7 linked regions of the Homo sapiens genome follow. The protein of the gene in region 4 interacts with the protein of the main gene of each other region in a pairwise test. Each region holds a gene or a part of one and is shown on either strand. Other genes may lie near its edges. The genes, in order: CCHCR1, FAM9B, GSN, FCHSD2, KIFC3, ZNF587 and HDAC4.

Evidence for each region.
Region 1: the proteins of FCHSD2 (region 4) and CCHCR1 interact in binary tests that used the Homo sapiens proteins (3 or more experiments, as listed by UniProt).
Region 2: the proteins of FCHSD2 (region 4) and FAM9B interact in binary tests that used the Homo sapiens proteins (3 or more experiments, as listed by UniProt).
Region 3: the proteins of FCHSD2 (region 4) and GSN interact in binary tests that used the Homo sapiens proteins (3 or more experiments, as listed by UniProt).
Region 5: the proteins of FCHSD2 (region 4) and KIFC3 interact in binary tests that used the Homo sapiens proteins (3 or more experiments, as listed by UniProt).
Region 6: the proteins of FCHSD2 (region 4) and ZNF587 interact in binary tests that used the Homo sapiens proteins (3 or more experiments, as listed by UniProt).
Region 7: the proteins of FCHSD2 (region 4) and HDAC4 interact in binary tests that used the Homo sapiens proteins (3 or more experiments, as listed by UniProt).

What each region holds. Positions count from the first base shown.
Region 1 is NC_000006.12:31,155,003-31,159,289, reverse strand, and holds the start of CCHCR1 (coiled-coil alpha-helical rod protein 1), read left to right. Parts: upstream 1-1,487; 5' UTR 1,488-1,689; coding exon 1,690-1,905; coding exon of another isoform or gene 1,906-1,932; intron 1,933-2,134; exon of another isoform or gene 2,135-2,200; coding exon 2,201-2,267; intron 2,268-2,345; coding exon 2,346-2,559; intron 2,560-4,287. UniProt on the Homo sapiens protein: May be a regulator of keratinocyte proliferation or differentiation.
Region 2 is NC_000023.11:9,031,328-9,035,324, forward strand, and holds the start of FAM9B (protein FAM9B), read right to left. Parts: upstream 2,801-3,997; 5' UTR 2,525-2,800; intron 1,957-2,524; exon of another isoform or gene 1,795-1,956; coding exon of another isoform or gene 1,660-1,794; coding exon 1,632-1,659; intron 1,135-1,631; coding exon 1,014-1,134; intron 835-1,013; coding exon 803-834; intron 1-802. UniProt on the Homo sapiens protein: May play a role in meiosis.
Region 3 is NC_000009.12:121,313,162-121,316,661, forward strand, and holds part of GSN (gelsolin), read left to right. Parts: intron 1-772; coding exon 773-862; intron 863-3,500. UniProt on the Homo sapiens protein: Calcium-regulated, actin-modulating protein that binds to the plus (or barbed) ends of actin monomers or filaments, preventing monomer exchange (end-blocking or capping).
Region 4 is NC_000011.10:72,890,819-72,894,318, reverse strand, and holds part of FCHSD2 (F-BAR and double SH3 domains protein 2), read left to right. Parts: intron 1-3,500. UniProt on the Homo sapiens protein: Adapter protein that plays a role in endocytosis via clathrin-coated pits. Contributes to the internalization of cell surface receptors, such as integrin ITGB1 and transferrin receptor.
Region 5 is NC_000016.10:57,767,992-57,771,491, reverse strand, and holds part of KIFC3 (kinesin-like protein KIFC3), read left to right. Parts: intron 1-54; coding exon 55-294; intron 295-791; coding exon 792-965; intron 966-1,536; coding exon 1,537-1,684; intron 1,685-1,766; coding exon 1,767-1,897; intron 1,898-3,500. UniProt on the Homo sapiens protein: Minus-end microtubule-dependent motor protein. Involved in apically targeted transport. Required for zonula adherens maintenance.
Region 6 is NC_000019.10:57,859,859-57,862,737, forward strand, and holds part of ZNF587 (zinc finger protein 587), read left to right. Parts: coding exon 1-282; 3' UTR 283-2,879. UniProt on the Homo sapiens protein: May be involved in transcriptional regulation.
Region 7 is NC_000002.12:239,048,021-239,051,520, forward strand, and holds the end of HDAC4 (histone deacetylase 4), read right to left. Parts: 3' UTR 148-3,500; downstream 1-147. UniProt on the Homo sapiens protein: Responsible for the deacetylation of lysine residues on the N-terminal part of the core histones (H2A, H2B, H3 and H4).

The sequences.
Region 1 (4,287 bases), on a different chromosome or scaffold from region 4:
CTAGGACTCAATGCAAAATTGGTTAAGCCGACTTGCAAATGAAAAATTCCAGGAAGGTCTCCGTGCAATGCAAACTCAGGAACACGTCCTATGGCACCTCACTTGAGCTGGATCCTCAGATCGCAAAATATTTGGGGAGCCTCCAATCTGCAAGGCAAGGATACTTTAGGCAGCTCCTGTGTGTGTCGGGGTGGCGGGGCGCGGGGAAGGAGGTCCTGTTATACACACGTCTACGTGCAATACGAACACATCACCTCTGTGTAATTCGGAGAAGAGTAGCTTCTTCCTGTCAAACTTGCTTATCCTAATAGAGCACTCCTGCTTGCCTGCGCCCCGATCTTCTGGCCAATCCCTCACTCATAACTGGTTGAACCTCCGAGGGCAATGAATCCACTGTCATCCCCCAAAAGAAAGTGCAAACGAGTCCTTAAGTACTCCAACAAATTGGACCTAAACCCCTACTTCCCGGCTTCTCTAGGTGGGATAAAAACAGGAAGGAGCTCCCCGCGATCATGCAAGGCATACCCGGCCTTTTCCCACTCCGCCCCAGCCCCGTTTCGGATCTACCCGCGCGGCGCAGTCTCCGAGTAGCCTCCTCTTCAAGCAGTGCCAGCCTGTGCGGCGGATCCCGGGACCCCTTGGGCTCCTCGGCAGGAGCCGACGTTGCTGCATCTGTTTGACAGCCAAGAAGCCGGGGCCAGGAGGGGCGCGGCCTCTGCGCGCGGGCAGCGCCTACCCCTCCTTCGGAATTCCCGGGCCCGAACTTCGCGCCGAGCGAGCCCGCCCCCGTGCCGTTCCCGATTGGCCAGCTCATGTGTTCTCTTCCGCGCCATTGGACAGCGCCCCAAGATCTCCCGCCTTCCACTTTTTCTGATTAGTTCACAAGTTTTCCCGGGTTGCCGCAGTGAGGAGGAGCCGCCTGGGCGCGGAGATGCTCCGACGCATTTAGTGGGCCCAAATTTAGACGCCACTGCGCCTGCGTACACCTTTCCCCCTCCTCCCAACAGAGTGAAATAGGACTTTAGGGCGCCCGCCTTGCGCAGGCGCGGTCAGGGGCAGAGGCGGGGCCGGGAGCGAGGCGTAGGGGGTGTGGCCAAAGCGCAGTAGGGGGCTCTCGCGGTTGGTAAGGGACGTTCGGGAAGAGTCGGTTGGGGGCGGGAAGGGGCTGAGCGGGGGTCCTGGGAGGGTTCAAGGGGTCCAAAGGGGAAGGGGGTACAGGGGCCAGGTGAAGGGACAGATGAAGAGATCAGAACAGCCTTAGAGCTCACGGGCTAACTGGGTGAAGCCTCGGGTATCTAGGGGAGCAGTGGTGGGAGAGTAGAGCCGGCTAGCGTACAGGGGGCGAGGGCAGGCTATTGAGAGATGGGGGTGAGGGTCAGGACCAGAATAATTCCTTCAGAAAAAGGTAGATTAGGTTGTAAAAAGGGACGGGAGTAGGGATCCCAGATTCGGGTAAAAAATAGATTAATGAGGGTGGGAGGGTGGGAGGAAGATCTTAAAGTGCCCACTATGTGTTAGGACTCGAGAAAGAGGAGGCGGGCAGCAGGCATGGAAGCTAAGGGGATAGTAGAGAGAAGCTGAGAGAACAGCCGCAGGAAAGATTTGAATAAGATGTCAGGACGCTGGCTTTTCTGCCTGGGGATCTAGGCGGCCTGGATTCCCAAGGTCTTGGGGAGGGTCTAGCCCTGCATGTGGCCACATTCAGCTGGGGCCAGGCCTTGGGCCAGCACTTTAACAGGGAAGGACCCAAGAGTCATGGCCTGCTGGTGTCTGGATGGGCTTCCCTCAGGCCTTGCTGAGCCATGGAGAGAACTCTGGAGATGGCGCTCAAGACCCCTGCACTGTGTACCTCCTTTCTCACCTCTGGCCAGGAGCAGCAGGGACCATAGAAACTTAAGGAGGAGGGTAGAGGCACTGCCCAGAATCCTGAAAGTATGAGTAAAGCCTCAGAGCCCCTCTCAGTCTGTCTCTTTCAGTAAATTCTCTCCACTTGATAGTTGCTTGGGTTCCATGAGGAACCAGGTTGAGACAAGCAAGTGAATTTGGGGTATCTCCTACTTTGGGGAAGTAGGAAAAGAGCTAAGCATCGGGTGGACCTGGCTATAATTCAAGGATTATGACTTTGTTATTGTAGGGGCTTTCTCTTTGGAAGGTGGCCTGAAAATTGAATTGGAGTGTCTTTGTTTCTCCTCTTGTCCAGGGGAACATAGATGGCTGGAGACAGAATCTAGAGCCTTCAAATAATGTGGAGATGTTTCCACCTTCAGGTCAGTGGGACCAGACAAGGGGAGTGGTGGTTGTCTCTGCCTGGGAAACTGACCATCTTTGTTTTTGTAATTCTTCAGGTTCCACTGGGCTGATTCCCCCCTCCCACTTTCAAGCTCGGCCCCTTTCAACTCTGCCAAGAATGGCTCCCACCTGGCTCTCAGACATTCCCCTGGTCCAACCCCCAGGCCATCAAGATGTCTCAGAGAGGCGGCTAGACACCCAGAGACCTCAAGTGACCATGTGGGAACGGGATGTTTCCAGTGACAGGCAGGAGCCAGGGCGGAGAGGCAGGTAGGGATCCATCCACGCCGTTTTCTCAGGCTTGCTTGCTAGTGACCCTTCCTCACTGGAATAAACTCCTTACCCTATTTCGGCCCTAGTTTCCAGAACGTACTCATTTTTATGTAAGCAATTAGTTCCTACAGTGCATAAATAATAAAGCAGTGTGCTAAGTGCTAGGGATGAGGATAACAATAGTGAATAAGACAAATCCTGACTTAAATTTGTAATTAATAAGGAATCTAAAATCCTAAGAGGGGAGATAGATTGACCACCAGCTGATGGTAAAGCATGGTATGAGGCAAGATGAAGAAGTGCAAACTAGAGGTAGAGACCCAGCACTGTGGCAGTGTGGGTTCATTCTGATGGAAGAAAGCCTTTACAGAGGACATGCTGTGGGAGCTGGCCATGCTGTCGTATTATCTGTAAACATTCTTATTCTTGTTTCATGTGTCTTTTCCCAGATGTACTGGGATATCATTCTGCCATTTTGCTCCAGAATAGGATTACATTAGAAGAAGCAGCATGATGAAGAAGGAATACTAGACTGGGTGTCAGGAGACAGAGACTCTATTTCTAGTTTGGCTACCAGCTAGAGGACATTTGGCAAGTCACTTAATTTCCCTAGCCTACAGATCGCTGCTACTAAAGAAAGAAAGAAAGAGCGAGCCAGATATGGCGGCTCACACCTATAATCCTAGCACTTTGGGAGCTGAGGCAGGAGGATCACTTGAGCCCAGGAGTTCATGACCAGCGTGGGCAACAAAGCGAGACTCCGTCTCCACAGAAAATAATTAGCTGGCTGTGGTGGCATGCATTTGTAGTCCTAGCTACTCAGGAGGCTAAGGTGGTAGGACCCCTTGAGCTCAGAAGTTGAAGACTGCAGTGACCTATGATCCAGCCACTGCATTGAGGCCTGGGTGACACAGTGATACCCTGTCTCTAAAAACGACAACAACAACAATCTCTTATAGTCCTGGGTCTCAGAGAGCTGCCTCAGGAGCCATGTTCCAAGCTGGATTAAACTTCACGTGACATTGGTAGACGATTTCTCTAAAGGCTGGCACTGTGTTATTTATGTACTGTTCTCTCAGACTCCTCATAAAGTATACCTAACACTCAATAAATGCCTTTTTTTTGAGATGGAGTCTCACTCTGTCGCCCAGGCTGGAGTGCACTGGGGAGATCTTGGCTCACTGCAAGCTCTGCCTCCCAGGTTGACGCCATTCTCCTGCCTCAGCCTCCCAAGCAGCTGGGACTACAGGCACCTGCCACCATGCCCAGCTAGTTTTTTATATTTTTAGTAGAGATGGGGTTTCACCGTGTTAACCAGGATGATCTCGATCTCCTGACCTCGTGATCCGCCCGCCTCGGCCTCCCAAAGTGCTGGGATTACAGGCATGAGCCACCGCGCCCAGCCAATAAATGCCTTTTAACTAGCACCTGGCCTCACCATATTGATACTGGAAGCTTACGACCTCTCTATGCCCATTCCTCCCTCAAACTTCTTGCCCTTAAATTAGAATTGAGAAGTCCCTGTGTGTTCTTCCAACCTTTCCACTTAAAATGTGTGGCCTAAAAATAAAAAAATAAATAAGACAAAAAAACCACCAAAAAACAAAAAGAATGTGTGGCCTAATGATATACACATTTGATGTTGAATCCTCCTGTATGTAGCTCTCTCTAGGGAGATCATGTTCCACGATCTCAGCCAGACTTTAGGTCCTGTGAGTCCAGGCA
Region 2 (3,997 bases), on a different chromosome or scaffold from region 4:
GAGTGTAACTAATATTTCACACAGCAATATAAAGTTTATGAGTTTTTGGAGCCAATTACATGTTTCTCACTAGGTAGAAAAGTTGTCCTTACTTTTCTACTACACAGTTTATTACTGGAATAATAATAGAAAATGATTTTAGAAAATTCAATTTTCTCTTGTACTTTAAAGAAAACAAAATCAGAAAGCTGTGACAATAGAACAGCTAAATTAGGAACATGAAAAACTCATATTAAAAACTCTGAGTACAGACGGACAGGAAGAGAGGAACAACAGACAACTGGGCCTACTTGAGGGTGGAGGGTAGGAGGAGGGTGAGGATCAAAGACCACCCATCAGGTACTATGCTTATAAACTGGGTGACAAAATAATCTGTATACCAAAACCCTGTGACATGCAATTTATCTACATAACAAACCTCCACATGTACCCCCAAACTTAAAGTAAAAGCTAAAAAAAACCATTGATATATGACTTAATCTGTGTATACTAAAAGGAACGAATAGAGCTGTTTCTCCTCCACTGTCCTCTAATATCCTCCAAACAATTAAATTTCCACATGTATGAAAGAAAAGCCATCCATCTCGCTTCACCATTATTAGAAGCATTCTCACATTCCACATCAACAATCAAAAAGGTAAGAAAAATTTATCAAATAGATTACATTAAATACGTACGTTAAATGCTACATATGAGAAGCCATTTAAGACAGTCTTGTCGTCCACTAATTCATATAACCTACTGCAACAGTTGTATGACTGAAAACAATTTTCATAAACTACAGATAACTCCTAAAACATACCTGCAGTATCTTCTGGCTTCTTGGTATTAGCCCTGTAAAAAAAGTTACATCAAAATTTTAACAAAATACTACACAAAATGCCATGTTTGTTGGGAAAAGAAATGTCTTATGTGAAATGTTCTGCATAGAATAGAACAGTGATGACATGGTCCAAAGCTGACTTTTCCTAAAAGACCCTATCCGACAGGCAAAAGTGACTTAAACACTTTACCCCGTGTGTTCATCTGTTTCAGCAAAAGGTTCTCTTTCCCCATGCTCATCAGTTACATCTTCCTCCCTTGTTTCTGTAAAACGGTTTCTTTCCTCACATTCATCACGGACTGGATCCTTTCCTGCATTAAAATGTAAAAGACAAACCTTTTTTAGAGGAAGATGCTGCTGTGGACATTTTTTGTGGAGAAATGTACTAGTTGTAGACTTTTTTGGGGGGGGGGGGCTCTCTGCCAATTAAAGCTTTAAAGCAGAGCTATACATGGAATCACCGGTTCCTGACCATTTTATCGAGGGACTTTTGGAAGCCCTTCGGGTTCAGGTTCCAGTAAACAACGTACTACAGTTCAGACCCCTTGGATGTCAGGACTGCACCCATGGAGAAGAGCTGCTCTGAGAGCATCTGTAACCCTGCTATGAGGGGGAGCCTTCCACGGGGAAGCCTAAGGCCCTTGAGCCTGCTTTGAAAACCTGGCGCATCTTAGCACGTGCACAATGGACTCCAGAGCCACGAAGGGGCCTGGGGCCTCGGGCTGCCCCTGTGCCCCCAGCGCAGAAAGCAGACAGACCGTCCTCTTGGGCGTGCACCTTCTTCTGGGTCCCCTTGGGCTGTATTTACCTGCATGCTTCTTCCCCCAGGCCGCCATAAATTGAGCCTCCAACTGGGCCTTGGCAGCCCTCCTGCCCACAGGATCCGTGGCTGGTTGTCCTGGGAAGCTAGAGGCGATCCCCGAACCTGGTGAGCGCAAAGACACACTAAGGAAGCTAAGGAAACCTGGCATCGGAAAGGAAAGCCATTGGGATCACAGGTTCAAGAAGGGTGGGGCTGGCCCGCCCTGGGTCTCATGTGGGAGCAGGAAGGGACGGAAAAGATGCCAGTGTCCCCTCCTGTCCTGGCCCGTCCAGCCCGTCCCCGGGGCTGGCTGCAAAGCTCACAGCTGCCCCTCACACCTGAACTCCACGGCCTCTGCGGGATCCTCGCCGCCCTTTTGGGACAGAACTCAGCCCTACCTCTGAGTCACCTAGCGACCCCATGTGGCTGGGAGGGCCGCTGGGTGACACAGGATCTCCCCAGCCACCTCTAGGGGAATGTCAGGGGCTGCACTGCCACTCGCCCCCCTGGACGCACAGGGGACCCCCGGTGACCCCCGGTGACCCCAAGTGTCCTGTCCTGTCGGGCGGCCAGGCAGGAGGGCCCCACTCAGACTGTCCCCCACAACACCCCCGCCTCACTCCCACTTCTCCCCCCCTCGGCCCCTCCCCCCAACACATGCACAAGCCCCCAGGACCCTCCCGGGCCCTAGGGATCACCCAGGCAGCTCCAGCTCCCTCCCTGCCCTGGCCCACCCCAGCCCACCCTAGCCCACCCTCAGGGCCTCGCCCTGACCCAGGCCCCAGGCGACGACGCTGGGGCCATTTCCTCACAGGTCGGCGGGCTGCCCAGCGCTTCACACCCTGGTTCCCAGAGGGCCTCGTGCCTGCGTTCCCGCCTCCCCACCACGAGTGCTTCACCTGAGGGACCCCTGATGTGGCGCCCTCAAAGAACCTGCAGGCAGCGGCACCACTAGGACCTCTTAGAAAACGGGTCCTCTCAGGAAGCTGAGGCAGGAGAATTGCTTGAACCCAGGAGGCGGAGGTTGCAGTGAGCCCAGATCACACCACTGCACTGCAGCCTAGGCAGCAAGAGCCAGACTCCGTCCCAAAAAAAACAAAACAAAAAAACAAAAAAAAAGAAAAGTAAAGAAAACGGGTCCTCAGTTCTCGTGAGAGCTGCAGGCAGGACTTCCTGCGCTCCTCGCTGATTGGTCGGCTCAGTGCACATGCGTGTGACGGGCTGTGTGGGGCCAGGCCCCCTGCTGGCACGCCCTCACCCTTCCCCTAAGTGACAGCCCGTGGTTGCTGTGGACTGGGGTGGGGGTGGCCCTTTGGGGCCTCTGTCCCCACAATCTTTCAGCTTCTCCTCCTGGGGAGAGACACAAGGACTTGGGATGGAGGCCAAGTGGACAGGGCCTAGAACCTCGCCCTGGGGCTTGTTCCAGCCACCCCTGCCCCTTTGGCTAGAATGGCCATCACCCTGTGGGTGGAGCCCAGGCTCCCTCCCATGCCCTGTGTGCTTCCAACATGCCCAGCTGCGTCCTTTTTAATCAATGGATTGTGCTTTTATCGTTTGTGTTTGTTGGTTTTTGAGACTGAGTCTCACTCTATTGCCCAGGCTGGAGTGCAGTGGCAAGATCTCAGCTCACTGCAATCTCCCCTTCCCAGGTTCCAGCGATTCTCCTGCCTCAGCCTCCCGAGGAGCTGGGATTACAGGAGCCCAACACCACGCCCTGTTGTTGTTGTTGTTGTTGTTGTTGTTGTTGTTGTTGTTGTTATTATTATTATTGCATATTCGGTAGAGACAGGGTTTCACCATGTTGTCCAGGCTGGTCTCGAACTCCTGACCTCAGTTGATCCGCATGCCTTGGCCTCCCAAAGTGCTGGGATTACAGGCGTGAGCCACCGTGCCCAGCCCATAACCTTTTTTGTTTCCTCACTACTTTTCTTTCTCATCCTCATGCCCCAGACTTGCCCACAAACCTTCATACTCCAGACTTATCCAGACATATGCCACAACCTTCACCCACAAATTAATGCCTTAATACTTATCGTTAACTCAGCTTTTTCCCACCTCCGATCCCCTGTAATAGGGAGAGAGTTGTTTCGGAGTTGGGAGTGAATAAATATTGCCTAAAGTTTGTAAATCAAGATACAGAGTTTCATTATACTATTGAAATTATAAAGGCAGTCATCAGGAAAACTAATCCACAGCCTTAAATGCCTATATAACCAAAAAGAGCACACACAAAGCATACAAATCCTGTAGTAAAAGTTGGAAAATAAAGAAAATACTACAGAGACCATAACATAACATAAAAGAACAGAATTAAGGCCAAGTGAATCTGTTGAGCAAGAAATATGAATGAGATAAACTCGCATTCTAAAGGA
Region 3 (3,500 bases), on a different chromosome or scaffold from region 4:
AGACCACTGAGCCCCAATCCCCTCTTTTCTCTTCTGACTATTTCTGGTAGTTTTTGGCCCATTTAGTCACATGGTGGGATTGCCAGCCATTGTGCGTTGAGGACGTATCAATAGAGGCAAGATTCACTAGGAAAAGGAGAAGACCATGAGCTCTGCTCCATGTCACTTGGTTCCTGCTTCTCTGGGGGCATCCAATTCCAGCTTTTGGAGAGAGCAGAATGGTGATTATTATTATGGGAAGGGACCTGGACACCAACCATGGCTTGGGAGGGACAGTGGGAGTGAAAATAGGCTCTGAAGCCACAGGGATGGAGGTTCAGATTCTGGCTTAGCCACCTAATAGCTGTGTGAGTAGGTGACTTCATCTTTCTGGACCTCAGATTCCTCTTCTGTAAAATGAGAGTGATAATCTGTGCCTCCTGGCCTGGCTGCGAGGATGCAGTGACATCTTTTAAAGGTAGGCGGTAGAAGGTGTTCAGTAGCTATAGTTATCACAATTAGCCGGTAGGCGAAATATCTGAAGCGCTGTCTGGAGGCAGAGGAGCAGGAGTGTTCTCCTGGAGTTTCTGAGTCAGGGAGACAAGGTGGAAGGGACCTCTGATGGACAGATCTGGACATGTGAGCAGATGCAGGATGTGTCTGGAGGAGGTCAGACTCCATGGGGAGGGTCACAGTGGATGTCCTTGTGATCCTTGCCTGCCTGGGAGCTATCTCAGGAGCCTGGCCCCTCCCTCACAGCCACCCTTCCTCTCCATCTCTCTATCTCCTACAGGTGCTGGGCCCCAAGCCGGCTCTGCCTGCAGGTACCGAGGACACCGCCAAGGAGGATGCGGCCAACCGCAAGCTGGCCAAGCTCTACAAGGTGAGCACCAGATGCACTGTCTGCCTGGGCATGGGGTCAGGACAGGGAGGTGGAAGACTTGGTCTTCCCCACTCCACTGCTATGGGACCTTGAGCAAAGCACCCCTTTGGAGGGGGGCCTCAGCTTTCTCACGTCTCCAGTGGATGCTCGTGTACTTCCTTTGCTTTCCTGCACTAAGAGCATGCGATCAACTCCGTACATATCTGTGTCACGCTCATACATGAGGTCTCTCTGAGTCTCAGTGTCCTAGTCTGTAAAGTGGGAAGAAGAGCAGAATGGTCGACTTTGTAGGATTTCTGGGAGTCCACAGATAAAATGGATGTGAAAACAGCTTAGAAAATACTTGGGGAAATACTACAGAAATGGTGTGTATGTGGGGAGGTTGGGGGTGTGGGTTATAGTTAATGACTTTATTTATGATTTCTTTCTTGTGATTTTCACAACTGAATTCAGGCTTAGCTTCAGCTAGGGAACTCTCTTGGCTGAGCTCTGGGAGAAAGCTCAATCACACTTACGTTGTGCCCCAAGTATTTTCAGTAAAACAACAAAAAGGGGATGTCGATTTTCACCACTGCCAAAGAAAAACTACTACATTATCGATTTTTTTTCTGATTATGAAGTAATACATGTTTATTGTAAGAAAAAAAAGTATTCAAAATATAAAAAGAAAATAAAAGTCCATGCAATTTCACTGGTTTAAAAAACCAGTATTACTTTTAAAATATGTTTTAATTACAAAAATGACAATACCCAGTTAAAAAATCAGCCTCTCCTCCTCATGAGAGAACACATCTTTGTCCAGCCACAGCTTTCTGTGCCTAGTTACTTTTCCATTTCCATCTTATTATTTTATTTTGAGATAGGGTCTTGCTCTGTCACCCAGGCTGCAGTACAATGGCACAATCACAGCTCACTGCAACCTCTGCCTACCGGGCTCAAGCGATCTCTTGCCTCAGCCTCCTAAGTGGCTGGGACTACAGATGTACGCCACCACGCCCAGCTAACTTTTGTATTTTTTGTAGAGACGAGGTTTTGCCATGTTGCCCAGGCTGGTCTCAAACTCCTGGGCTCATGTGATCTGCCCACCTCAGCCTCCCAAAGTGCTGGGATTACAGACCTGAGCCAACGCTCCCGGCCATTTCTATTTTGTGTAACTGGATCCAAACTATTCATGCTGTTGTGTGGTCTTTTTTCCACTCAACATGGTCGGGAATATCTTTCTATAATAAATCTCAACACGACCCTTTATAACAGCTGTATAGTATTTTATTTTATGAATGTAAGAATTTAAGCAAATCCTGATTGATGGACATTAGGATGTTCCACCTTTTCCAGTTGCAGACAGTCCCTCTTGGTGCACTTGTGCTAAGTACAGCATAGCACTAGGGCAAGTTCCTAGACAAGGAACTGCTGGTCACAGGCCGAAGAATGAGTCAGTAGTTGAAAATACTGGTTCTGGGCCAGGCATGGTGGCTCACCCCTGTAATCCCAGCACTTTGAGAGGCCGAGGTAGGCGGATCACCTGAGGTCAGGAGTTCGAGACCAGCCTGGCTAACATGGTGAAACACTGTCTCTACTAAAAATACAAAATATTAGCCAGGCGTGGTGGCGGGTGCCTCTAATCCTAGCTCTCCTCCTAAGGGAGGAGAATCACTTGAACCCGGGAGGCGGAGGTTGCAGTGAGCTGAGATAGTGCCATTGCACTCCAGCCTGGGCGACAACAGTGAGACTCCGTCTCAAAAATAATAATAATAAATAAAATAAAAAAAGAAAATACTGGTTTTGGAGTCAGGAGTCAGACTACCTGTGTTTGAATTCCAGGTCAGCTATTTCTAGCTGTGCAAGTTCCTTAACCACTCTGTGCCTTGGTTTCCTTGTGAATGAGACAGGGATAGTAACAGAACTATCATATGCAAGGATTAAAGGGGTTCTATAATTATACAAGTTATAGAAATTGCTTAGAACAGTGACTGGCACAGAGTAGTAAGTACTCAATTCATGTAGAATAATTATTATTTAAAGGACTGCTACCTCACAGTCAACTGTACTCTGGAACAGCTCCCAAATTACTGTCATCAGGGATCTTAAATGCCTGTTTACCCAGAGCCTTGCCAACTGGATATTGTTAAACTTTTGAATTTTGACTCTTAAGATAGAACTTTTTTTTGAGCTTGGTTGAACTTTTTATTTTAGAATAATTTTTAAGTTTACAGAAAAATTGTAAAGATAGTACAAAGAGTTCCTATATACCATTCACTCAGCTTCTCCTTAGCATCTTAGCATAACCAGGTACATTTGTCAAAACTAAGAAATTAACATTGCTTCAGTACCATTAACTAAACTATAGACTTTAGCCAGATTTCCCCAGTTTTTTATTCTAGGTTCCAATCCAGGATACCAGATTGCATTTAGCTCTTTTTACTTTTCTTTTTCTTTTCTTCTCTTTTATTTACTTATTTATTTTTGAGACAGAGTCTGGCTCTGTTACCCAGGCTGGAGTGTAGTGACGCAATCATAGCTCACTATAGCCCCGACATCCTGGGCTCAAGTGATCCTCCCACTTCAGCCTCCCAAGTAGCTGGGGCCACAAGCAAGCGCCACCACACCTTGCTACTTTTTGTATTTTTTGTAGAGATGG
Region 4 (3,500 bases):
TCTGCCTTGGCCTACCAGAACACTGGGATTGTAAGTGTGAGCTACTGTGCCCAGCCCCAGTATATTTCTTGTCTCTCAGTAAACTGAAAAATGTAAGTAGTACAAATTCCCTGAATGAGGGTTAACTAGAATGTTATGCCATTGGCCTAACAACCCCAACACTATCTTTTTTTGAAATGGTTTGGAATGCTAGTATTTTACTGTTAGTGATTTTCATTCATCATACATGACCATCTCTTTTTCTCTCCTTGAAATGGTTATATTTTAGTTACAGAGTTAAAAAACTGATTGTTTTCTTCTGCGAAGTCAGCTTTTCTATCGCTGCTCACTCTGCTCAGATATCTGAGCCTTCTATGCCTTTGTATTAACCTTAAAATAAAACAAAATCATATCTTGAGAGAGCATCTAAGGACAAAATAGTTAAGATGACTTAAAGACTAATATATCAAGAATATTGGAATGCTGATTTCCTTAATTTAGTTCTTCAAAGTTATTTAATAACTTTATGAATGTTGAAAAGACTTTATTGTAATATTTTATTCTAAAGGGACTAGAGTTTTTTTTTTTTTTGGAGACAGAGTCTCCCTCTGTAGCCTAGGCTGGAGTGCAGTGCCACGATCTTGGCTCACTGCAACCTCCGGCGCCACCACGCCTAGCTAATTTTTGTATCAAATACATTTTTAAAAGATAAAGGAAAAATATTGGGCTGGGCATAGTGGCTCATGCCTCTAATCCCAGCACTTTGGGAGGTCAAGGCAGGAGGATCATTTGAGGCCAGGAGTTTGAGATGGCCTAGGCAACATAGTGAGATCTCATCTCTACTAAAAATCAAAAAAATTATCTGCGTGTGATGGCATATGCTGTGGTCTCAGCTACTTGGGATGCTGAGGTGGGAGGATTGCTTGAGCTTGGGAGGTCAAGGCTGCAGTGAGCCATGATTGCACCACCGCACTCCAGCCTGGGCAATAGAGTGAGAACCTGTCTTCCAAAAAGAAAAATGTTAAAAGAATGATCTAGGCCAGGCGTGGAGGCTCATGCTTGTAATCCCAGCACTTTGGGAGGCCAAGAACAGGTGGATCACTTGAGGACAGGAGTTCGAGACCAGCCTGGCCAACATAGCAAAACCCCCATCTCTACTAAAAATACAAAAAGTTAACTGGGCATGGTGGTACATGCCCTGTAATCCCAGTTACTCCGGAGGCTGAGGAATGAGAATCTCTTGAACCCGAGAGGCAGAGGTTGCAGTGAGCTAAAATCATGCCACTGCACTCCAGTCTGGGTGACAGAGTGAAACTCTGTCTCAAAAAATTAAAAATAAAAATAAATTTGCCAGCATTTTAAAAAGAAGCAGTCATTACGGTTTCTTTGTTAGAATCGACCACTGCTAATATCACTGTCTTAAAAAAAAAATTACCAGCCACGCACGGTGGCTCACACCTGTAATCCAAGCACTTTGGGAGGCCGAGGCGGGTGGATCACGAGGTCAAGAGATCGAGACCATCCTGGCCAACATGGTGAAACCCCGTCTCTACTAAAAATACAAAAAATTAGTTGGGCATGGTGGCACATGCCTGTAGTCCCAGCTACCTGGGAGGCTGAGGCAGGAGGATCACTTGAACCCAGGAGGTGGAGGTTGCACTGAGCTGAGATCATGCCACTGCACTCCAGCCTGGCCAACAGAGTGAGACTCTGTCTCAAAAAACAAAAAACAAAACAAACAAAAACACAAAAACATAATTATCTATACTAGATCCTGATTTATATTGATCTTTGATAGTGAAGGTGGTATTGGAACATTTCTCTGTGTATTGTTTAATAGCCTGGGCTGTATTCACCTTGTATGAAATTCTCAGTTGTCAAGACCTGTGTCTCAGGAGCTTCCACATGTATTCCATGGCTTGATTTCAGAATTCATGAAAAGGATAAATTAATTTGAGTTTTAGTTTTGTGTCATTCCCTACCCAAAGGATCTCAAAGCCACATCTTCCAATCAGTGGCATTAGTTACCTGTCCTGATCATTGGACTCCCAAGTCTTAGTAGACACATAAAAAATAAGGGAAAAGCTCTATCCTGAGCACAGTGAATACTCAATAAGAAGGTATAAATTCTGTAAGGCAAATTGGGTTATGGCCCATCTGCAGCCAGCACACAATTTAAACCCCTTTACCTATTCCTAAAATGCTGCTCAGTAACAAAAATTAAATGTCTCTATCAGTTGCCTCCTTTCTCATCTAGCTACTCCCTACAAATTCATTCTCTTTGAGATCTGCCTTAATCTTTCAATATATCTTCAATCTTCATTTTGGATTCATTGTTTAGGCTATTAAGAACCTAGGAATTATCTGGATTTTCTTATGAACAGTAATAAGAAAATTTTTGTTTCAAGTAATTTTCAATTGGGTCTTTAACATTAACAGTTACCATTACTGGATGCCTAAGATATTATGTAGATCCTATACCAGAATGTTTAAAATATGACCTCATTATAACCTACCAACCCTATGGAGATAGGTGACATTTTCACTAGTTTTCAGATGTAGCTACGACTCAGATAATTAACATGCCCAAGATCATAAAGCTAGTAGTGCCATAAAATGGCATACAATGGATTCAAACTAAGTCTATCTGACTCAAAAACCTATTCTTGGACTCTTCAGAATTTATCTTTCTACTTTTACAGATCACATTCCTCTGACTTTTGTATATTTCATTTGTATCTGTGTCCAGAGTTTAACACTTTAATATTCCTGACTTTGAGAACAGATGTAAGTTTGAATGCCCAGATTCATTTGCAAAGCAAAATATAATAGTAAAGTTCATTCCCAAACTTCTGATAACCCCAAAAATGAATTAGAATGTAAAATATGAATGTAAAGATGGTTAAGTTTGAATATTGATTATTTTGCTCTATTTCAATTTATTTGTCATTGTTATAATCTAGCTGAAATGTCTGTATAGAACAAAAATTTTTAAACCCTGCCTCATCACAATTCCCCCAACAAAAATATTAATTTTTAAAATCCAGTTTATCAATTTCTACTTACTCTATCAATTTTGAGCTATGAGACCTTGCAAAAGAATTACTAGGCCAGGTGTACTGGCTCATCCCTCTAATTTGAACACTTTGGAAGACCAGGGTGGGAGGATTACTTGAGCCAAGGAGTTCAAGATGTTGAACTCCTATGTTGCCTGGGCAACATAGTGAGACCTTATCTCTAGAAGGAAAAAAAAAAATGAGCTGAGTATGGTGACACACACCTGTAGTTCCAGCTACTCAGGAGGCTGAAGTGGGAGAGTCACTTGAGCCCGGAGGTTGAGGCTGCAGTGAGCCGTGATCAGAATTTCTAAAATTCTTTTCATTCTACAATTTTGCTGCTTTCTATATTAAAAGCCTCTTTGGGTAATTTATATTTTAAAAAAAATTCCTAATTATCTCAATAAAGTTTGTTTTTCTTGGGTCTTTAAGAATTTAGAGAGAATTAAAATAGTTTTGTGTTTA
Region 5 (3,500 bases), on a different chromosome or scaffold from region 4:
TCCTCACAGTGAGCCTGTCCCTTGCACTCATCCAGTGCCTCCCAATGGCTGCAGGAGAGCGCCCAGCTCCGTGACAAGCTGTCCCAGCTGCAGCTGGAGATGGCGGAAAGCAAAGGCATGCTGTCAGAGCTGAACCTAGAGGTGCAGCAGAAGACCGACCGGCTGGCTGAGGTGGAGCTGCGACTCAAGGACTGCCTGGCTGAGAAGGCACAGGAGGAGGAGCGGCTTAGTCGGCGCCTGCGTGACAGCCACGAGACCATTGCCAGCCTGCGGGCCCAGTCCCCACCTGTCAAGGTGAGCCCTGGCCCACCTGATCTGTGCCTCAGCCCAAGGCCCCTGGCACCTGGGGCAGGGCTAGCCCATAAGGGGGGCTTGTCCTGGTGAATAGGTAGGTGTGTGTGGGTGGAAGAATCATTCCAGTTCTGTGCTTGGTCCTGCCCCTTCCCCTTCCTGTATCCAGGGCCAGGCACCGAGTAGGTATCCAACAGCTGAGGTGCCAGGCACAGATGCAGCGCAGCCCCTGGATTCTGCCCTCGTCTTTTTGCCTTTCTTGTCTGTACCCAGGATGGGGCCCCAGCCAGGCTCATAGTAGCCTCTTGTTAAGCTGAGAAGGTTCCAGGAGACCCCCCCAGCTTTCTGGAAAGCCAGGACCTCAAGGCTCCTCTAGTTTTTTTCTGGTTTCTGAGTGGGATGTTCCCGAGAGTTCCTTCCCCTGGCCTGCTGCGTCTCAGGCTCTTGGGTGAGGTACGGTGCCCGCTGGCTCCACGTGCCATTCCTCCCTCACCCTGCAGTATGTCATCAAGACAGTGGAGGTGGAGTCGTCCAAGACCAAGCAGGCCCTCAGCGAGTCCCAGGCCCGGAACCAGCACCTGCAGGAGCAGGTGGCTATGCAGAGGCAGGTGCTGAAGGAGATGGAACAGCAGCTGCAGAGCTCACACCAGCTGACCGCGCGGCTCCGGGCGCAGGTACCCAGGCTGTGTGGGGGCACATGCCCAGCCAGGAAGCCAGAGGCAGGCCCTTGGGCCAATGCATCGGTTAAACATTTGGGTACCCCACAGACACGGGGTCCAGTCCCTCCTCTCCCCGATGGCCACGGGACCCAGGGCAAGTTTTGTCTGGTTTCCTTTTCCTCATCTATTATAACACGATCTGGTCCCAGAACCCACCTCACAGTGGGGACTCAGGAACGTCATCCCAAGAAGCTTTGTGCCCACGGCCCAGCACACAGGCTGTGCTCAGTAAGCTCTACATGGCACTTGTCACTGTCATCACAGAGGCCCTCTCCTACCTTCCTGAGGGCACGTGGCTTGGGCACCTGATGTGTGCTCAGCACTGGGTTGGTGTTGGAGCCAATGCCCAGAGCTCACAGCCCTGTAGGGGGAGGGAGACAAGGCCATTCTGCCCCTCTGGGTGTGCACATGTGTGTGTGCATGTGTGTTCATGTGCATGGGAGGTGACCAGTTTCTTTCTCGGTGTGGCACCTGCCCCTCTCTCTCCCGCACCTCGAGGTACTGAGCCTTTTCCTGGTCTGGCCAGATTGCCATGTACGAGTCAGAGCTGGAGCGGGCCCATGGGCAGATGCTGGAGGAGATGCAGTCCCTGGAAGAGGACAAGAACCGGGCCATTGAGGAGGCCTTTGCCAGAGCCCAGGTGGAGATGAAGGCTGTGCACGAGAATCTAGCAGGTGAGCTGACCAGCTGGGCCCTGTCTGCCCCACGCCGCGGCCCCTCATCCCCTCCCGCCTCACAGCCCGAGTGTCCCCATAGGCGTCCGGACCAACTTGCTGACCTTGCAGCCGGCACTGCGGACCCTCACCAACGACTACAATGGGCTCAAGCGGCAGGTGCGCGGCTTCCCACTGCTGCTGCAGGAGGCCCTCAGGAGTGTCAAGGCCGAGGTGAGCGAGGGCAGTGGGTGGGAGGGTCCAGGCTAAGGGGGTGCACTGGGAGAGGCACGACATCCACTCAGGGCGTCCCTCCAAAGCTCAGACAAAGCCGCTCAGACAGCAGCCCCTGCCCCACCCCCCATGACACTTACTGCTGCCCTTATAGGCCCTGTTTGAAACTAGACTGCTCAGGGCAGGCATTCGGCTATTTGTCTTACTATGATTCTTTAAACCAAACATGTTACAGATAACTTCATATTTCAAACATGCAGGCCAGGCGCGGTGGCTCACACCTGTAATTCCAACACTTTGGGAGGCCGAGGCAGGCGGATCACTTGAGGTCAGGAGTTTGAGACCAGCCTGGCCAACAAGGCGAAACTTCGTCTCTACTAAAATTACAAAAATTAGCTGGGCATGGGTGGCAGGTGCCTGTTAATTCCAGCTACTCGGGAGGCTGAGGCAGGAGAATCACTTGAACCCAGAAGGCGGAGGTTGCGGTGAACCAAGATCATGCCACTGCACTTCAGCCTGTGTGACAGCGAGACTTTATCTCAAAAACAAACAAAAAACATGCTACATACGTATTTTTTAAAAAAATTATTTATTAGAGACAGGGTTCATTATGTTGCCGAGGCTGGTCTTGAACTCCTGGCTTCAAGCAGTCCTCCTGCCTTGGCCTCCCGCAGTGCTGAGATTATTGGTGTGAGCCACCATGACTGGCCGATACAGTCTTACCTCTGTTAGGTTTAACTTAATTCTTTCAAGCTGTACTTGTACATATGAGAATAACCAGTGCCTCTTAAGTGCCTCCTACATGTCGAGCTGTTTATAGCCGTTAGCTCCTTGAATTTGTATGATAGCTTTGCAAAGACTAATATATTTTGGGAACAGAATATAGTTCTTCTCCTTTAAAAGACTATATCAGTAATACATGGACGTGGTGAAAAGTCAAACTCCATAGCAGGGCATCAGGTGAATAGGAAAGGCCTCTCTGCCACCCACCCAACTCTTCCAATGTGGCCTCTCAGCATTTCCCCCGACTGTTCTGAGCATGCTTAAGCCAATTGTGCGTGTGTGTGTGTGTGTGTGTGTGTGTGAGAATATATGGTAGGCCCTTCCCCCATCCACAGGTTCTGCATTCCCAGATTCAAACAACCACAGATCAAAAATAGTTGAAAAAAATTAACAGTACAACAATTAGAAATAATAGAAATAAAAAATAACATATAACAACTATTTACACAGCATTTTTTTGTTTTTGAGACAGTGTTTCACTCTTGTTGCCCAGGCTGGAGTGCAATGGCGGGATCTCAGCTTACTGCAACCCCCACCTCCCGGGTTCAAGCGACCCTCCTGCCTCAGCCTCCTGGATAGCTGGGATTACAGGCGTGTGCCACCATGCCGGGCTAGTTTTGTTTGTTTGTTTGTTTGTTTTGTATTTTTAATAGAGGCTGGGCTTCACCATGTTGGCCAGGCTGGTTTTGAACTCCTGACCTCAGGTGATCCGCCCACCTCCGCCTCCCAAAGTGCTGGCATTACCGGCATGAGCCACTGCACCCAGCCCCTACCCAGCATTTTCATTGTATTAGATATTATAAGTAACCTGGAGATGATT
Region 6 (2,879 bases), on a different chromosome or scaffold from region 4:
CAGAGGATTCACACTGGAGAAAGGCCGTATGAATGCAGTGAATGTGGGAAATCATTTCTTTCCAGCTCTGCGCTTCATGTTCATAAAAGAGTTCATTCTGGACAAAAGCCTTATAAGTGCAGTGAATGTGGAAAATCCTTTTCTGAATGTTCCAGTCTCATTAAACACAGGAGAATTCACACTGGAGAAAGGCCTTATGAATGCACCAAATGTGGAAAAACATTTCAGCGAAGCTCTACCCTCCTTCATCATCAGAGTTCACACAGGAGAAAGGCCTTATGAGTGCAGTGAATATGGGAAATCGTTTGCTGAAGCATCCCGTCTCGTTAAACACAGGAGAGTTCATACTGGAGAAAGGCCTTATGAGTGCTGTCAATGTGGAAAACATCAGAATGTCTGCTGTCCTCGGTCTTAAGCGACTTCGTGTTGAGATGGAGTCTTGTTCTGTCACCCAGGCTGGAGTGCAGTGGTGCAGTCTTGGCTCGCTGCAACTTGGGCCTCCTGGGTTCATGCAATCCTCCTACCTCAGCCTCCTGAGTAGCTGGGATTATGAGTACACACCACCACGCCCAGCTAATTTTTGTGTTTTTAGTGGAGATGGGGTTTTACCATGTTGGCCAGGCTGGTCTCAAACTCCTGACCTCAAGTGATCCACCCACCTTGACTCCCAAAGTGCTGAAATTACAGGCATGAGCCTCTGCACCTGGCCTTCATTCTTTTCGTATTGCTTAGAATATGACATGCTGAACCAGGCATGGTGGCTCATGCTTGTAAACCTGATGCTTTGGGAGGACAAGGTGGTTCATTGGAGGCCAGGAGTTAGAGATCAGCCTGGGCAACATAGCCAGACCTCCTCTCTACAAAAAGAAAAAAGAATGACATGCTTCTTGTTTTTGTCTGTTATAAATGAAACTGCTATATTTGAATGCAGTTGTTCATGTAGGTATGTTTCACTATGGTAATATGGTGGTGTGCAGTGCCTGAGTCACGTGATAGATTAAAGTACAACTCTTTTTTGAGACAGAGTCTCACTCTGTCACCCAGGCGGGAGTTAGGTGGCATGATTTCGGCTCACTGCAACCTCTGCCTCCCAAGTTCAACTGATTCTTCTGCCTCAGCCTCCCGAGTAGCAGGGATTACCGGTGTGCACCACCATGCCTGGATAACTTTTTTTTTTATTTCTATTAGCAATGGGGTTTCACCATGCTGGCCAGGCTTGTTATGAACTGACCTCAAGTGATCTGCCTGCCTCAGCTTCTCAGGTGTGACCTACTGTGCTTGGCCTAATGTACAACTTTTTAAGCAATGCCAAACTATGACTTAAGAATGAAATTATTGCTCATTTGTATATCTATCTACCATCAGTGTCCAAGAATTTCTGTTCTATCTTACCAAGAGGGAGTATGGTTAGTATTTGAAATTGTTTATTATTTTAATAAGTGGTTATAACTTTTGAGTCAGTGGTTTATGTTTTGCATTTTTTTTGTTTTGAGACAAAGTCTCGCTCTGTCTCCCAGGCTAGAGTACCGTGGCACAATCTCAGCTCATTGCAACCTCTGCTTCCTGGGCTCAAGCACTCTGCCCACCTCAGCCTCCAGAGTAGCTGGAAATACAGGTATGCACCACCACAACTGGATAACTTTTGTATTTTCTGTAGAGAGGGTTTTACCTTTTTGCCCAGTCTGATCGCGAACTCCTGGGCTCAGGCGATCCACTTGCCTAGGCTCCAAAAGTGCTTGGTCTACAGGGGTGAGGCACCCTGCCTGGCCTCACCTGTAGGCTTGTTTTTTAAAATGAATTTTATCTATTTCCCATTTCATTAATATATTTAAAAATAATGAAATAACAAAGACGTATGTTGGACTTCATTCATTCTTCAGTGATGTCACTTTGCTGCAAGGAATATTTGGTTTTCTTTTTTTTTTTTTTTTCCAGATGGAGTCTAGCTCTGTCTCCTAAGCTACAGTGAAGTGGCATGATCTCGGCCCACTGCAACCTCCACCTCCTGTGTTCAAGCGATTCTGCCTCAGCCTCCTGAGTAGCTGGGACTACAGGCATGTGCCATTATACCTGGCTAATTTTATTTATTTATTTTAGTAGAGATGGGGTTTCACCATGTTACCCAGGCTGCTCTCTACCTTCTGAGCTCAAGTGATCCACCTGCCTCGGCCTCCCAAAGTGCTGGGATTACAGGTGTCAGCCACTGTACCTGGCTGAATACTTGGTTTTCAGTACCACAAGAACTATGAGCTGGTTATCCACTTCATGTGGAATCATAAGCGTCCCAAAGTGACAATACATATAGATTGCCAGGCAGTGAAACAGTTAAGATGCCACCATAGCTTTCTTTTCAACATCTTTCTAAGATTACCTTACTATTTCTTTTGTTCCAAGTTTGTACTTCCTCACAGTTCTCACATATGGAAAGGATACACACTTTGTAGAAACAAGAACTTTATGTTATCCAAGTTCTAGGATAGCCATGAGCTCCAATTATCTCAGAGCTCTGAGTCCTCTACTCAATACCCATTGAGATTTATGTGTTCTGAGGCTTTTGTCTTCTAGCTACTTACTTCATTCTCCATGGGTAACGTCATTCATCCACATTAACTAATTTCCTCACTCCAAGCTCTTTTCTAGAGATAATCTCCAGTCCCTGTGCAGAAACTGTCATTGCACTTTCTGCTGAAATGGCAGTTTCTTCTCAGCAAGGTGAGATTATGGAATCCAGAATCTTTTTTCAGGGGTCACATGCCCATTTCCCCACTTGCATGAATGTCGACACTGCAGCCACAGTTTTGGCCGTAAATGTGAATTTGGCAAGTAACCACTGTTCCCAGGGAAATGTCCCAATCAGAAGAAGATTATCTGGGACACTG
Region 7 (3,500 bases), on a different chromosome or scaffold from region 4:
GGTCTGGGTCTAGGGGCCGTCCCCATGGGGTCCAGTGATTCCCATGCAGCCATCCGGATGGGACCCAGGGCACTGGCCATTCGGCCCACAGGGTCCCAGACATGCGAGAGCCAATGAGGAAGAGAGCGCACGGGCAGAAACCAGAGCTGGGAGGGCAAGTAACGCAGTCTTTATTTACACCACAAGATAACACGTTGCGTGATGTGGTACAGAATACTGGACTCCAGTGAAGTGGAAAGAAGGTGACCGTCAGAAGAGGATATCATTGGTCGGTGAAAATCCACCCACACAAAACAAGACAAGAATGAGAAAACCAAACACAAAACCTCCAACTCCACTGAGCAAAAGAAAGAACCATCGGGCACGTCCAGACAATCCAAGAGAAACGGATTAAATTACAGAGGTGAATGGTGGCCACGGCCAGTGCGCAGCTCACGGCGGGCGCGAACAGGCATCAGGTAGGTTACAGTGTCGTTACAACTTGGTTTTCTACCACATTCCGTAAGAAGCTCTTGGGTGAGTAAGGTTCAAGCCCCCTGTATAGATAGATAGATAGATAGATAGATAGATAGATTATATATGTTTGTCATTCTCATCAATTGGAAAATAGCGCCTCCACTATGGAGCACACACGGCAAAAAAAACAAACAAAAACTGTTCGCTTTCTTTTTCTTTCAATAGCAGACTTTTAATCAATGCCAGAGACAAAGTGAGGCCGAGCTAAGAACACGCTCAGCTTCGTTACAATGAAGAAATGGTTTCCTTTCGATGCAAAGTATAATTGTAAACCACAGTGCTCGCACAGTTCACGACTGCTTAAAGTGAAATCTTAGCCATACATCACCTAAAAGTAATTAAAAAGTCAACACAGCTGTGCGGAAAAGGGGACTCTTTCGAGTCCGCCCAGTTCTCAATCAGAATAAACCGTCACAAGGCCAGTGAGGGCGGGCGGCGCTCGCCTGGCCCGTGGAAGGAGATAAAAGGAAACAAACAAAACAAAACAAAACAAAATTCCTCCAAATCAACTCGAGAGAGACAGGCAGTTCACTGTGAATTCTGAGTAGTTTCCCTAAAACACTGTTTCCACATAAATACAATAAACTCTATTATTGGTATGTCACAAGTGCTAGATAAACTTTTTTTCTTAATATGACAAATGTTTAAGTAGTCCTTTTTATTTTTCTTACAATAAAAAGTACAATTTCTTAAGAATAAGTTCAATAAGACGCAAACTTCCCCGCCCTCCTCTCCTTCAAGGTTTTGTTTTACAGAAAAATTTCCATCTTTTGTATCTGCAAATGTCATGAGAGGGGAACAGAAAGGCATTTTTCTTCTTCCCCAAAGCTGCCGAGTTTGGCGTGCAAAATCTGTATACAATATAAAGTCATGCCGGTCGTACAGTCCATGCAACCTCCAGGTGTAGGAAACTTAAAAAAATATATTCATATATATTTATATCTATATATTTATATATGTATCAATGCCCATAAAACACGTGGGCCCAAAGTCTACAAAAAGAAGAATGGAATGAGCACGTGGCTGTGACCAGTAAAGAAGGAATGTTCTGATCAAAAAGAAAAACAACAAAGTCCATTGCTAGTGCTGCAAAAATCAAACTTGCTTTTGTGTCAGACCATTACGAAATGGTCCTTCCCCTTGCAAACAGATTTTCAAAAGAAGTAAAGAAAAACTGAAACACCTTGACAAAGTGGCCCTCCAGAACCAGAGCCCTGGGACGCTGGGGAGGGGCGGCCAGTCCCAGCGGGCCACGGCCTCCGGGACAGCCGCCTGCTGGTGGGGCGTGGGCACGTGGGCACGCTGCGGCACGGCGGGAAGCCGCGAGGGCAGGGCAGACGCCAAGAGGCCCAGTGGCGTCATCAGGGTTTCCCTCAAAGGGATATAAAGTGCTCGCTTGCTGACTCCCAGCCAGTGCCCCCAAGGCCTTTGCAAAGGAAGAAAAAGGCTAAAGGTCCAAGGACCCACAGGGAGAACACATGAAGGAACCCTCCCTGACGTGGTCCCGCCTGCAGACGCCGAGGCAGATCCTCTGCCATCTGCCCTGGACGCTTGCTGTGGAGAAGAGCCGAGTGTGTCTTCAAAGAAAAGGCTACACAGTAATGCTCTCAGCACATTTGTGAAGCTGGAGTGAGCTGACAGATGAAACGTGCCTCCCCCTGCCAGGCCTTTGCAGAGGGCGTCTCCATTTGAATGAGATTAGAATTAAGTCCCCCCACTGATAACCTGGCCACTGAGCAGTCCATGTTATCCCATCATCTGCTTAAAAAAAAAAAGTGAGATGATGCATTCCTCCCCATAAGCCACGGCGGGGTAAGAGGGCAGGTGGCAGGATCCCCAGAGGGCTATGCAGAGAATGAGGCCAAGGAGGCCAGAAGAGCCTGCTAGCTGGGCCCTGCCACTGCTCTGTGCCATGAATGGGGAATGGACCAGCTCCTCTTGCCAATCTGGGCTTCAGAGCAAAGAGTGGCCACCAGGGAGGGGAAAGTCAAACAAGTCCCAAGACCGTTCTGCCTGCTCTCAAACCACTGTCTCAGAGCTGACCATCAGCAGCCCAGTGACCAAGTGAATCCAAGAATCTGCACTCATTTGGTCAAAAGTTTGAGTTAATTTCAGAAGCTACCCTGTAAACTTTACCAAACTCCGAAACTCGGCTCTGGGTCCCTCCTGAGCACGGTGTGTCTGAACTTCTGCCCCCAAGTCTGAACCCAATATACACTTTGGAATGAAACTGGTGGCTTCATGTGCTGGAAAATAAGTTACCAGTAAAACGTGACTGTCAGTTACTGTTGAAGAGAAAAAGAGTAAAGACTGGCTGTCCTGGTCAGGCAATCATACCCTCCCTGCAGGTTCACCAGGCAACAAGGGTCCCTGGGTTCCTTGCAGCCACAGGCTCCAAAATCCAGGGCTGGCCACGTGGCTGCAGTGGAAAAACCCAAGTGGGTAAAGAGCCCCACGTGTGCCCCATGCATTGCTGACATGCTCAAAAGGTCTTTGGAAAACTCAAGTTAGAATTCTATCCTGACGATGTGGTCAGAGAAGTTTAAACATGAGTTTCATTAATGCTGACTGCCCCCGGCATCTGGCAAGCCTCCCAGGGTGGCCGGGCATCCTAAGCAACCCTCCCTGCCCTTGCCACGGAGGGGAAAAACACACCACCCCTCGTAATACTACTAGTGTTGAAAGTTAAAAAGAGCCCCTGGGCTTCTTTATACAGCTCCTAGGACAGACCAGGAAAGACACAATCGTTGGTGTCACTCCGAAAAGACCTACGGTCCCTCCTCTCACTTTCTGAAAATAGAATCTGACAGCAACAATTCTGTACGCTGCAGAAAACTCATCGTACAAAAATAAAAACAAAAATAATTAAAAACCTTTGAAAGGTAAAAAAAAATGTACAAGCAAGAATTCAGAAAGGAAAAAGATTTAGACATTATTACCATTCAGAAAATTGCTAAATGGTGAGGAAAAATGTAAAATTCATA